3 linked regions of the Homo sapiens genome follow. The protein of the gene in region 1 purifies or fractionates together with the protein of each later gene. This does not show direct contact. Each region holds a gene or a part of one and is shown on either strand. Other genes may lie near its edges. The genes, in order: KDM5A, ZNF131 and BRD8.

Region 1 (3,652 bases):
TGTAAAATCTCCTATCATTTAATATTTGAACAGTTCATAGCTGTGAAGTTTAGTAATTATTTTTGTGATTCACTAAATACATCTCCTAGAAATAATGAAAGGGGGGGAAATGACAATTTATACAGTTATCCAAATTCTGTGTTCTTGAGTTTTCAGGATACTACATAGTCTGTTGCCCCTGTGTCAAAATCATCTGTGGATTCAGTTGACATCCCAAACTTTAGTTTGCTTTATGTTGCTGTGGGCCTTTCACACAAAAGTAGAACTCAGAGTTGATTGTTAGTAGATGAACATGATAAAAAAGATATTGGTAAAGAGAAGGACTATTTTTTGCTTGTTCTATTATCAGGCTAAATTGTTATATAACCTGTAGTCTAGGTTAGAATTTGTGTACCAGTATCTCAAGGAAGGTTATATACTCTTTTGAAATGGTAGAAGATCTGGGCTTAGGAAGGGACCTTTAGTCAAAATCACAAAAGGGAAAGTATTGTCTTATTTGTAAGAGAATTTTGGGAAATTGTAAGCCAGTGAGTATAGTGCAAACACTAGATTTAAAAAGACATGGGACACTTTTCTTTGTAGCAAATACTGATACATTAATAACATTCTTATCCAATGGATTAGCATGAATGGGGACTAGACTGGATTAAGAAAGAGGGTTGGAGGTGTAAGGGTGAAGGTAACTGTTGGTTCACAGGTACCATTATAAAAAGCATGGTATCTCAAACCTGGGCAGCACAGAGAACCACAGTTTATCTATCCAGTTCCCTTTACCAGTCCCAAACAGCCAAAACACTCACTCTGAGTGCACGTACTCTACAGCTAGCATTTTGTGTTTTTACTGCTTGCAGTACTTTAATTTTTACATTTTGCACAGATGCCATTATTTCCCCCTTTTTTTTTTTTTTGGTCTCTGATTAGTTTGCTACAATAGGAACATTTTGGTGAGTTTTTTTATTGCACAGACTTCAGAAGCTAAACAATCAATTACAGAACAAAAATCAGTTTAGGAAGGTATTGTTAAGTTGCTCTGAATTTACAGGAAGTGATATCACAGAGGGCCAGCAATGATCGGATTTAGAATATATGAGAATCACTTGGGAGCTGATTAAAAATGTAAGCTTCTGGCTTGTACTCCCCAGATATTCTGAGTTCATAGGGTGATGGGTCCCAGCTACATTTTAAACAAACACAATAGATGATTCTGATGCCAGTGGTCTACACACTTTGAAAAGCAGTGCTGCCGACAGTTGTATCAAGGTGCAGAACGTTTTGTGTAGTGTAGGGTAATGAGTAGAGCCATGAGACCATGACTGGAAAGTGCCTCCAGTATCCTGGGCAGTGAATTAGGTGTTTTGCCATACATTATTTCATTGGATCCTCTCGGTAATCTTGTAATTAATGTCATCTCCATTTTCAGATGAGGAAATTGAGTCACTCAGGTTAAATGACTTGCCTGAAATGATACACACTGGAACTCAGAGCTTCTGAGTTGAGTAATCTTGATGTTAACACAATATTGTCTCTTAAGATCTAGAACTTTAGCATAGGAACAAAACAAGTAGAATATCATTTTGACAAATTATTTTTCCCACCCCTTATTACAAGCCTAAAACTACTGACGTGACTACTGTGGTTTTGACAGTTTTTTATAGGACATGGAAACTAATTTTGAAAACTACTCAGTTGCTATGAATGAAACTCATTTACCTAGCCAAAACCTCCTTCATCTGTTCTTTCTCTTAAGTTGTATAGAGGTACTTCTTGGATCCCTTTCTATTCCTTACTTTGATATCTGGTAAAGCTCATGGTTTTAAGTGGCTTCTTAACGTTACCAATGAAATGACCAACCTTGGTATTGAGGTGAGGAAGAGTAGCTCTTTTCATCTTAAATGTTCTTGTCTGCCATGACATTAGCTGTAAAAACTACCACAATCAGCCTTCAAATATAAAAGCCAAAAGTCACTTTATTGTTAACTCTTAAGTCCAAGGCTTAAAGTCACCAAACTACAATCCCTTCCTAGCCTCCTGTAATCACAGTATTGTCAGAAGGGTCAAAGTTTGACACCTGCCACTGACCTATCAGTTTTTCAGATTTTAATTTTAAACCCCAGAGTGATCTATTGACCTGTGTCTTTGACTGTTATAATTGGTTAATTTGTAAGATTTGACATCTGATATTTGCTAACTTTTTATAGGGAGTTGTATTTGTAACGGAAGAAGAGAAGAATAAAAAATATTAGTTTTAAAAGTGGCCTATGTGACTGCTTTTCTAAAAAGGTATTTAATGCTCTTAGTACTTTGGCTTATCTCTTTGAAATAAAGCTAATACACAGGATTGCCTTCACATTGTTGTACTCTTCCTTTCTTGATTGATAATTGCATTGTCTTAGAGCCTAGAAATTGTTAATATTAGCTAAAACTACTTGGCTGCTCTATTAGAAGTTCCCTTTTTGTCAAATTTTTCTCAAACATGTTTCTGCCTCACAAGGAGCCCCAGGTATTCATGAGGTAATGGAGTACCTAAGAGGCCTAATTTTGTGGACACACTATGGTGAAATATAATTTTGGGGTATTAACTTCTCAGCTTCTTTCTTTAAAAAATAACCCCATAAGAAGTCATTGCCTATCTAGACATCCCAGTTGTTTGCTATTGTTTAAGCCAAGAAAGCTCTTTGGTTTGCTTTTATTCTAGGCTTAATGTTTATGTAACCTAAACATTCCCCAATCTTGTTTCCTACAGGTAGACTGGGTACAATGTGATGGTGGCTGTGATGAGTGGTTTCATCAAGTTTGTGTGGGTGTATCTCCAGAAATGGCTGAAAATGAAGATTACATCTGTATAAACTGTGCAAAGAAGCAGGGGCCAGTTAGCCCAGGTCCAGCACCACCTCCTTCCTTCATAATGAGCTACAAACTACCAATGGAGGATCTTAAAGAGACCAGTTAGCAGATGCTTGGTTAGTTTGGGACATGGGGGGACATGGACCACATTGAGACCTTAGTCATCAAGTAGAGTGGTTTATATCCACTTGGAATGTTGCTTCCAAAGATGAATGGCCTTCAGAGAAAGTCCCCTTAGTGCTGGCTTCCTCTTTGCATGGACTCTGTGGGTTACATTCTCTATCAACATATCTATGCAGAGGGTGTCTTCTTTGGTACAACAGCCAATATTTCATGTCTCCTTTGAGTGTGGTTTACTGCATTAAGGCCAGATGCTTAATTGAGCTCTAGGGTGGCTGGTTAGTATTAATACATTGGTGTGCTAACAGGGCATATAGGATGTGGCTTTTGTCCAGCTGATAGTAGTTAGAGGCTTACAACTTAGGAGCAGCACCAACTGAAGGTGCTAATTGCTTGGATCTCCTTCATTGGGATAGTTGGAGAGGGATTGGAGTACCACTTTCCTTCCACTGTTACCTGGTACTTAATGCCCTAAAGATACAACTAGGAGTAACAGGGCCAAAGTTATTTCTGTTAGACGTCAAGGAATGGTATCACAGTCTATTGACCTCAGCGATTTGTGCTTGTTTGTGCTAGAAGAACATCCCAAATAGGAGAACCTCTCACAAGCTGGGGCAGGTCACCTTATCTTTGTAAGATGAGGATATCATCTAGATCAGAAATCTGACTAGATTGGATTCTGAGGAGA
Region 2 (3,652 bases), on another chromosome or scaffold:
TGCCTCAGAGAGGTTGGAGACTATTAGAAAAATGTGGGAACACTAATATGATTATTGTTGTAATGGAAAATGTAAAACATAAAAATACAGAATAATAGAAGTGCCTAAGTCAATCTGCTTGGCTCAGTAAGGAAAAGCTTCAGAGAACAGGTTGTTGGCTCTCACCTGAGACCAGAAAGATGAGTAAAATTTTGCCATGAACAAGCAGACAGATGGCATTCCAAGAAATGAAAAGAACATATGCATAATCATGTTATTATGTGGCAGATATTGTTTTAAGAGCTTTACGTGTACCACTTCCTTAAAACATAAATCTAAGACAGGATAAAATATTTGGAGATTTGATCTGACCCACAGCTCACTTTTCAAATAGCCTTAAACACAAGACATTTGTCAAAAAACAATCAATGGCAACTGTTTATCATTGCAACTACTGTGGTGGCATTACAAGTTTGGGCTATCAAGAAGCTGAACAAAAACTGAAAGGAAAAACTGGAGAATGAGATGTTCATAGGGGGCTTTAAAAAGCTCTGACAGACTGGACGTGATGGCTCATGCCTGTCATCCCAGTACTTTGGGAGGTCAAGGCAGGTGGATCACCTGAGGTCAGGAGTTCAAGACCAGCTTGGCCAACATGGTGAAACTCCGACTCTACCAAAAGTAAAAAAAATTAGTTGGGCGTGGTGGTGAGCGCCTATAATCCCAGCTACTCAGGAGGCTGAGGCAGGAGAATCACTTGAACCTGGCAGGCGGAGGTTGCGGTGAGCCAGGATCGTGCCAACACAAAGCTCTGTCTCCAAAAAAAAAAAAAAAAAAAAAAAAAAAAAAGAAAGAAAGAAAAAAAGGCCAGGCGCCGTGGCTCACGCCTGTAATCCCAGCACTTTGGGAGGCCGAGACAAGTGGATCACGAGGTCAGGAGATCGAGACCATCCTGGCTAACACAGTGAAATCTCGTCCCTACTAAAAATACAAAATATTAGCTGGGCGTGGTGGCGAGTGCCTGTAGTCCCAGCTACTCGGGAGGCTGAGGCAGGAGAATAGCGTGAACCTGGGAGGTGGAGCTTGCAGTGAGCCAAGATCGCACCACTGCATTCCAGTCTTGGGGACAGAGCGAGACTCCGTCTCAAGGAAAAAAAAAAAAAAAAAAAAAAAAAAAAAAAAAAAAAAGCTCTGACAATATTCCAGAGAACCTAGAGGGCCATACACATGCACAGAGCTGTATACATGTCCAGGAAAGACCTTAGCAACTCTCATCTCTATCTGACCTTGAGGTTCTGTTAACACAGGAAGTAAAGGCTAAAGCAGTTGTAAACTGCTTGATGGGACACTGATGGTGTACCCTATAAAGAGCTCCCCAACAAAAATGTGGAGACTTACTGGTTTAAGACTTTTAAGAAAATTTCTGTCCAATGATCAGTTTGTTCAGTAAACTACCTATGCAGACTTCAGTGGCCATACACACAAAATGTAGACTGTACAGAATTACAGGAAAGGGATTACAGAAGTCCAGGAAAGTCACTAAACCAGTAACAACAATAAGAAACGATGTCTGGCTCATCTAAACTAGTTCCAGTGGGATAGGAAATTAAGAAACTTCAAATACAGCGTGTAGTTGAAGATGATAAACTTGCAACAGTGGAGAAGCAGATCACTGCTTTTGAGGACTATGTGCAGTCCATGGATGTGGCTGCTTTCAACAAGATCTAAAATCCATCCTGGATCACTGCACTTAAATAAAAGCTTGAGGCCGGGCGCAGTGACTCGTGCTTGTAATCCCAGCACTTTGGGAGGCAGAGGCGGGCAGATCACAAGGTAAAGAGATGAGACCATCCTGGCCAACATGGTGAAAACCCCATCTCTACTAAAAATACAAAAATTAGCTGGGCGTGGTGGCGTGTGCCTGTAGTCCCAGCTACTCGGGAGATTGAGGCAAAGGAATCGCTTGAACCCGGGAAGCAGAGGTTGCAGTGAGCCGAGATCACGCCACTGCACTCCATCCTGGTAACAGTGAGACTCTGTCTTCAAAAAAAAAAAAAAAAGCTTGAAAGATTAAAAAAAGAAACCATGTCTGGCCAAGTATGGTGGCTTATGCCTGCAATCCCGGCACTTTGAGAGGCTGAGGTGGCCACGTCTCTTGAGCCCAGGAGTTCGAGACTAGTAGCCTGGGCAACATGGTGAAATCCTGTCTCTACAAAGAAATACAAAAATTAGCCAGGCATGGTGGCAAGCATCTGTGGTCCCAGCTACTTGGGAGGCTAAGGTGGGAGGATCTCTTGAGGCCGGGAAGTTGAAGCTGCAGTGAGCTGAGATTGTGCCACTGCACTCCAGCCTGGGTGACAAAGCAAGACCCTGTCTCAAAAAACCAAACCAAACCCAAACAAATCATGTCTGAGAGACAGAATGGGGGTGGGGAGGTAGGGGGTGGGATCTAAATAAAACTTATTTAAAAATATCCAATTTTTGGCCGGGTGCCATGGCTCACGCCTATAATCCCAGCACTTTGGGAGGTCGAGGCAGGTGGATCACGAGGTCAGGAGGTCAAGACCAGCCTGGCCAAGACGGTGAAACACCCTCTCTATTAAAAATACAAAAAAATTAGCCGGGTGTGGTGGCGGAAGCCTGTAATCACAGCTACTCGGGAGGCTGAGGCAGAGAATTGCTTGAACCCGGGGGAGGCGGTGGTTGCAGTGAGCCGAGATCTCACCAGTGTACTCTCCAGTCTGGGCGATGGAGTCTTGCTCTGTTGCCCAGGCTGGAGTGCAGTGGCATGATCTCAGCTCACTGCAACCACCGCCTCCCGGGTTCAAGCAATTCTCTGCCTCAGCCTCCCGAGTAGCTGGGATTACAGGCGCCCGCCACAACGCCTGGCTAATTTTTTTTGTATTTTTAGTAGAGATGGGGTTTCACCGTCTTGGCCAGGCTGGTCTTGAACTCCTGACCTAGTGATCCACCCGCCTCGGCCTTCCAAAGTGCTGGGATTACAGGTGTGAGCCACCGTGCCCAGGCCAAAAATCTAATTTTTAACCAAAAAAAATGATGAGACATACAAAGAAACAGTAAAATAAGGCTCATGCATGGGGGAAAAAGTCAACAGAAACCATCTCTGTAGAAGCTTAAACACTGCATTATTATAAACAGCCAACATATAATACTACTGTCTTCCTCTTTTCAAAGGGAACTCTTCAGAACATATTACATGCCTATCTGGTTCAAGAAACAATTCAACATGTTACTGTGTTTATACTGAAAAGCAATGATTGTTTTAGGTACTATTGGAATTCCAGTTTTTTTTTTTTTTGAGACAGGGTCTCATTCTCACCCAGGCTGGAGTGCAGTGGTGCAATCTCGGCTCACTGCAACCTCTGAGTCTCCCATGCTCAAGCGATCGTACCACCTCAGTCTCCTGAGTACCTGGGACTACAGTTGCACGCCACAGTGCCAGCTAATTTTTGTATTTTTCATAGAGTTGGCGTTTCACCATGGTGCCCAGGCTGGTCTCAAACTCCTGAGGTCCAAGTAATCCACCCACCTTGGCCTCCCAAAGTGCTGGGATTACAAGTATCAGCCACTGCGCCAGGCTTGGGATCCCAGTCTTGAATCTTCTCCAAAGTGACATACCACTCACTATCATGAGCAGCAAAAGGGCCACAGA
Region 3 (3,652 bases), on another chromosome or scaffold:
TTCCACTGCTGCCACATCCAGCACTTCAGGATGATCATCTACCTGTCCCACAAAACACAAGACTATTGAGGTCACAGAAAGAAGCCCAAGTCCTTCAATTTTTGTTAGCACCAAATGTGATGGCTTGAATCTGCAGCTTTTCGCTCCATTTTTTCCATGTAGTGGAGGCAAACAATGAAGAGGCACCTGTCCTGTGCAAACCAGTAACATGGGTAGACCTGAGGAGATGACTAGTATGTTAGCACCAAAGGGCTACAAAGATGGAGATGGGCAGAAGTAGGAGAGTTGTTTAAGTAATTCTTACTGTAAGAAGCAAAGCAGCCGAGTATGGTGGCTCATGCCTGTAATCTCAGCACTTTGGGAGGCCGAGGTGGGTGGATCACTTGAGGCCAGGAGTTTGAGACCAGCCTGGCCAACATGGTAAAACTCATCTCTACTAAAAATACAAAAAATTAGTGAGGCGTGGTGGCATGTGCCTGTAGTCCCAGCTACTCAGGAGGCTGAGGCACAAGAATTACTTGAGGCTGGGAGGCAGAGGTAACAGTAAGCCAAGATCGTGCCACTGCACTTCAGCCTGGATGAAAGAGCAAGACTCTGTCTCCAAAAAAAAAAAAAAAAAAGCAGCAGCAGCACCAAAGTGAGGCTGAAAAGAGAAGCCTATGTAGGACCCATGAGATTCTCTGGGGCTTCGCTGAATAGTTACCTTGTCCTCAATGATGGCAATGATGTCTCCAACAGTCTCAAAATCCAGCTCTTCACCTGTGTAAGACACAGCAATATCCATCTTCTCAGCCAGATCTAATTCTTCCTTCCCATCTATGCTGGGAGCCTTTGATCCAACAGGAGCCTCTGCTACCCCTGATCGAAAACACTCTTCTTTGATAGAATTGATGATCATGGATATTTCACTGCTGTCCATGGAAACAGTCACAGTATGTGGATCCCCCACAGCCTCCATGGGAACACAGTTGTCGGGTTGACTCACTGAGTAACAGAAAGAGAAAAGCATCTCAGAAGCTTATTGGGTACAAAGCGACCACCTTGAGATCACATAAGCGCTACAGACAGATGTCAAATATCCAAACACTTAAGGTCAGAAAGAGTCATCAACATGTGCCTATGTTTTCTTCTCCCCAGTTTTATCTAGAAAGGTGAGAACATATTTTCAAGCCTGCTCATATCTGTATACTTAGCCTCTTCCTGCAATACATAAATGCCCACCCACCTCTTCTCACATCTATTTCTAAGGATATTTATTTCTAAGGATAAAGATGGCACATGTCTATGTAGAACAGAGAAGAAGCATCTGAATCGGAGCTGATGCTCTTGGTCATTTTTCTCTAACTAAAGCTCAAAATGAAATTTTAGATCTAGTGGCTGCTCAGGGACGCACCTGGAGCTACACTTTCAGTAGTGGAGACAGCCGGAGCAGAGGATGGTGCTGGCAGCGCAGGCATCATGACAATGGTAGCTTGGGACACAGACTCTACAGGGGGTGGCACAAGTTTAACTGGAGGCTCACTGGCAACAGTAGTGAAGGAAGCAAGAGGTGTGGTGAACTGTGTAGGACCAGCTTCTAAAAGCCGGGAAAGAGTGGGAGCACCTAACATATAAAGAGGTACACAAAATGAAGTAAGAAGAAAGCACATAAATAAGAAGCAATAGCTACTTGAAGACTCAACTAAGAAAATTCTTATGGTCTCAAAGGATGAGAGCAACTCCTGCATTGAATAAGTTCATCATCTATATCCTTACTCTAACCTTACTTAAGATCTTCCTCCAAGTTAGGAATGAACCAAAGCACTAGAACACACAACATATATAAAAAATGGGTGGTAAGGCTAGGTGCAGTGGCTCACGCCTGTAATGCTAGCACTTTGGGAGGCCGAGGCAGGTGGGTCACTTGAGGTCAAGAGTTTGAGACCAGCCTGGGCAACATAGCGAAACCCTGCCTCTACTAAAAATACAAAAAAAAAAAAAAAAAAAAAAAAAAAATTAGCTAGGCGTGGTGGTGGGTGCTGTAATCCCAGCTATTCAGGAGGCTGAGGCAGGAGAACTGCTTGAACGCAGGAGGTGGAGATTGCAGTGAGCCAAGATTGTGCCACCACACTCCAGCTTGGGCGACAGAGCAAGGCTCTGTCTCAAAAAAAACAACAACAACAACAACAAAGGGTGGTAATTTTTCCTCAGAGGAAAATTAATCACCAAGAAACGAAAAACTGGTATGAATAAATCTGTCGCTTCTGCTGAAGTTCAGCATATTGTAAACCACCCAAGTTCAACACCATTCAAATACCAATAAGGTTTGTATGGTATTCTATGGAGCTTTTTTTATTTCCCTGCTTTATACTTTCTACCTCATTAAATTCTCATCACATCCTTGTGAAGTATATATGTTACAATAAAAAAGGAAACTGAGGCTCAAAAGCTAAGTTACCTATCCAAGGTCACAAAACCAATGTGTGGCAGGCCTGAGATTCAAGCCCAATTCTCTGGTTCCAAATCTTATTCCACTATTCTATAATCTTAGGTATCTCTAGCACCTTGATTTTGCAAGCCCTAAGAAAGCAGTTCAATATTACTCTCAATATCCATGCTGTGGTCAATCAGGGCTATCACTATCTTGAAGATAGATGGCTTTATAATATGGAGACTACATTGTTTACCAGGTAAAGTAGCTCCAAAAAAAAGTTAGAAAAAGTTGGGCTTTAAATCTAGCACTGACAACTGCTTAGTAACAGTGAAACTGAGGTCAGTCAATGTCAAGTTCAACACCTTTGAGGTTGATAAAGGAAAAGTGGTAACTTACCTGATGCAGCAGGGGAGGCTGCAACAGTATTGGGTGTTTGCTGTATCTCCCCACCATGTATCATGGGAAGGACCCCGCCTACCTCCAGGAGGACACCTGTACTGTTCAGGTGGCCAGAAGCCACAGCCATTTCACTCTCATTGACCTACCAGGGAAGAATAGAGGTGAAGGCTACACTCAAGCTTTCCTTCACTACCATTTCCCAACAAAGCTCCAGCAGTTGATCAAACTTCATGAAAACTAATAGCTAATATCCACAGAGAATAATTTAAGACCCAAGGGAAACTCTAAACTATAATGTTCAAAACTTATTTGACAAGAGTTCTCTGGAGAAGAGAACCAAAATAATTGTGATTCAGATACCTCAGGACCCATGGGTACTATCAACTTACTGTATTTTTAAAAAATTAACATTTAATTAGGAGATCTTTTCCTCTTTTGAACTTTTATTCCCCATGTCACATTTTAGGTCCCAGGCACTCCCTTCCAAGTACTAAATCACCACAGCTCTCAAACACCCACAGAAGTCTCCATACCAGTCTGGGGCTAGTAGGCAGGAGGCTGCCCTTCTTCAAGAGCTCTGACAGCAGAGGGGAGGGGGGTGGAGTTGCTTTCTGTCCAAGCATCTTTTTCTGGGGTGAATCATCTGTTACTGGGGTCATGGGGGCTTCTAAGGGTGCAGAGCCTGGAGGAAGGGTGTCAGGAATCCCAGGAAACGAGGTGACTGGGGTACTCGGCAAAGTCCCGGGGGTTACCTAAGAGACAACAGAGAACCTTTATCTGACTTCTCAAACTATGGAAGGTTCCCTACTAATCTGTATGGGTTAGTGTGTCTAACTATTA

The links.
Region 2: the proteins of KDM5A (region 1) and ZNF131 purify together in Homo sapiens (affinity purification with western blotting; one study listed by BioGRID). This does not show direct contact.
Region 3: the proteins of KDM5A (region 1) and BRD8 purify together in Homo sapiens (affinity purification with mass spectrometry, with the first as the bait; one large-scale study listed by BioGRID). This does not show direct contact.

Annotation. Positions count from the first base shown.
Region 1 is NC_000012.12:284,754-288,405, reverse strand, and holds part of KDM5A (lysine-specific demethylase 5A), read left to right. Parts: intron 1-2,743; coding exon 2,744-2,950; 3' UTR 2,951-3,652. UniProt on the Homo sapiens protein: Histone demethylase that specifically demethylates 'Lys-4' of histone H3, thereby playing a central role in histone code. Does not demethylate histone H3 'Lys-9', H3 'Lys-27', H3 'Lys-36', H3 'Lys-79' or H4 'Lys-20'.
Region 2 is NC_000005.10:43,141,414-43,145,065, reverse strand, and holds part of ZNF131 (zinc finger protein 131), read right to left. Parts: intron 1-3,652. UniProt on the Homo sapiens protein: Plays a role during development and organogenesis as well as in the function of the adult central nervous system. May be involved in transcriptional regulation as a repressor of ESR1/ER-alpha signaling.
Region 3 is NC_000005.10:138,165,125-138,168,776, forward strand, and holds part of BRD8 (bromodomain-containing protein 8), read right to left. Parts: intron 3,565-3,652; coding exon of another isoform or gene 3,346-3,564; intron 2,955-3,345; coding exon 2,810-2,954; intron 1,604-2,809; coding exon 1,394-1,603; intron 985-1,393; coding exon 704-984; intron 43-703; coding exon 1-42. UniProt on the Homo sapiens protein: May act as a coactivator during transcriptional activation by hormone-activated nuclear receptors (NR). Isoform 2 stimulates transcriptional activation by AR/DHTR, ESR1/NR3A1, RXRA/NR2B1 and THRB/ERBA2.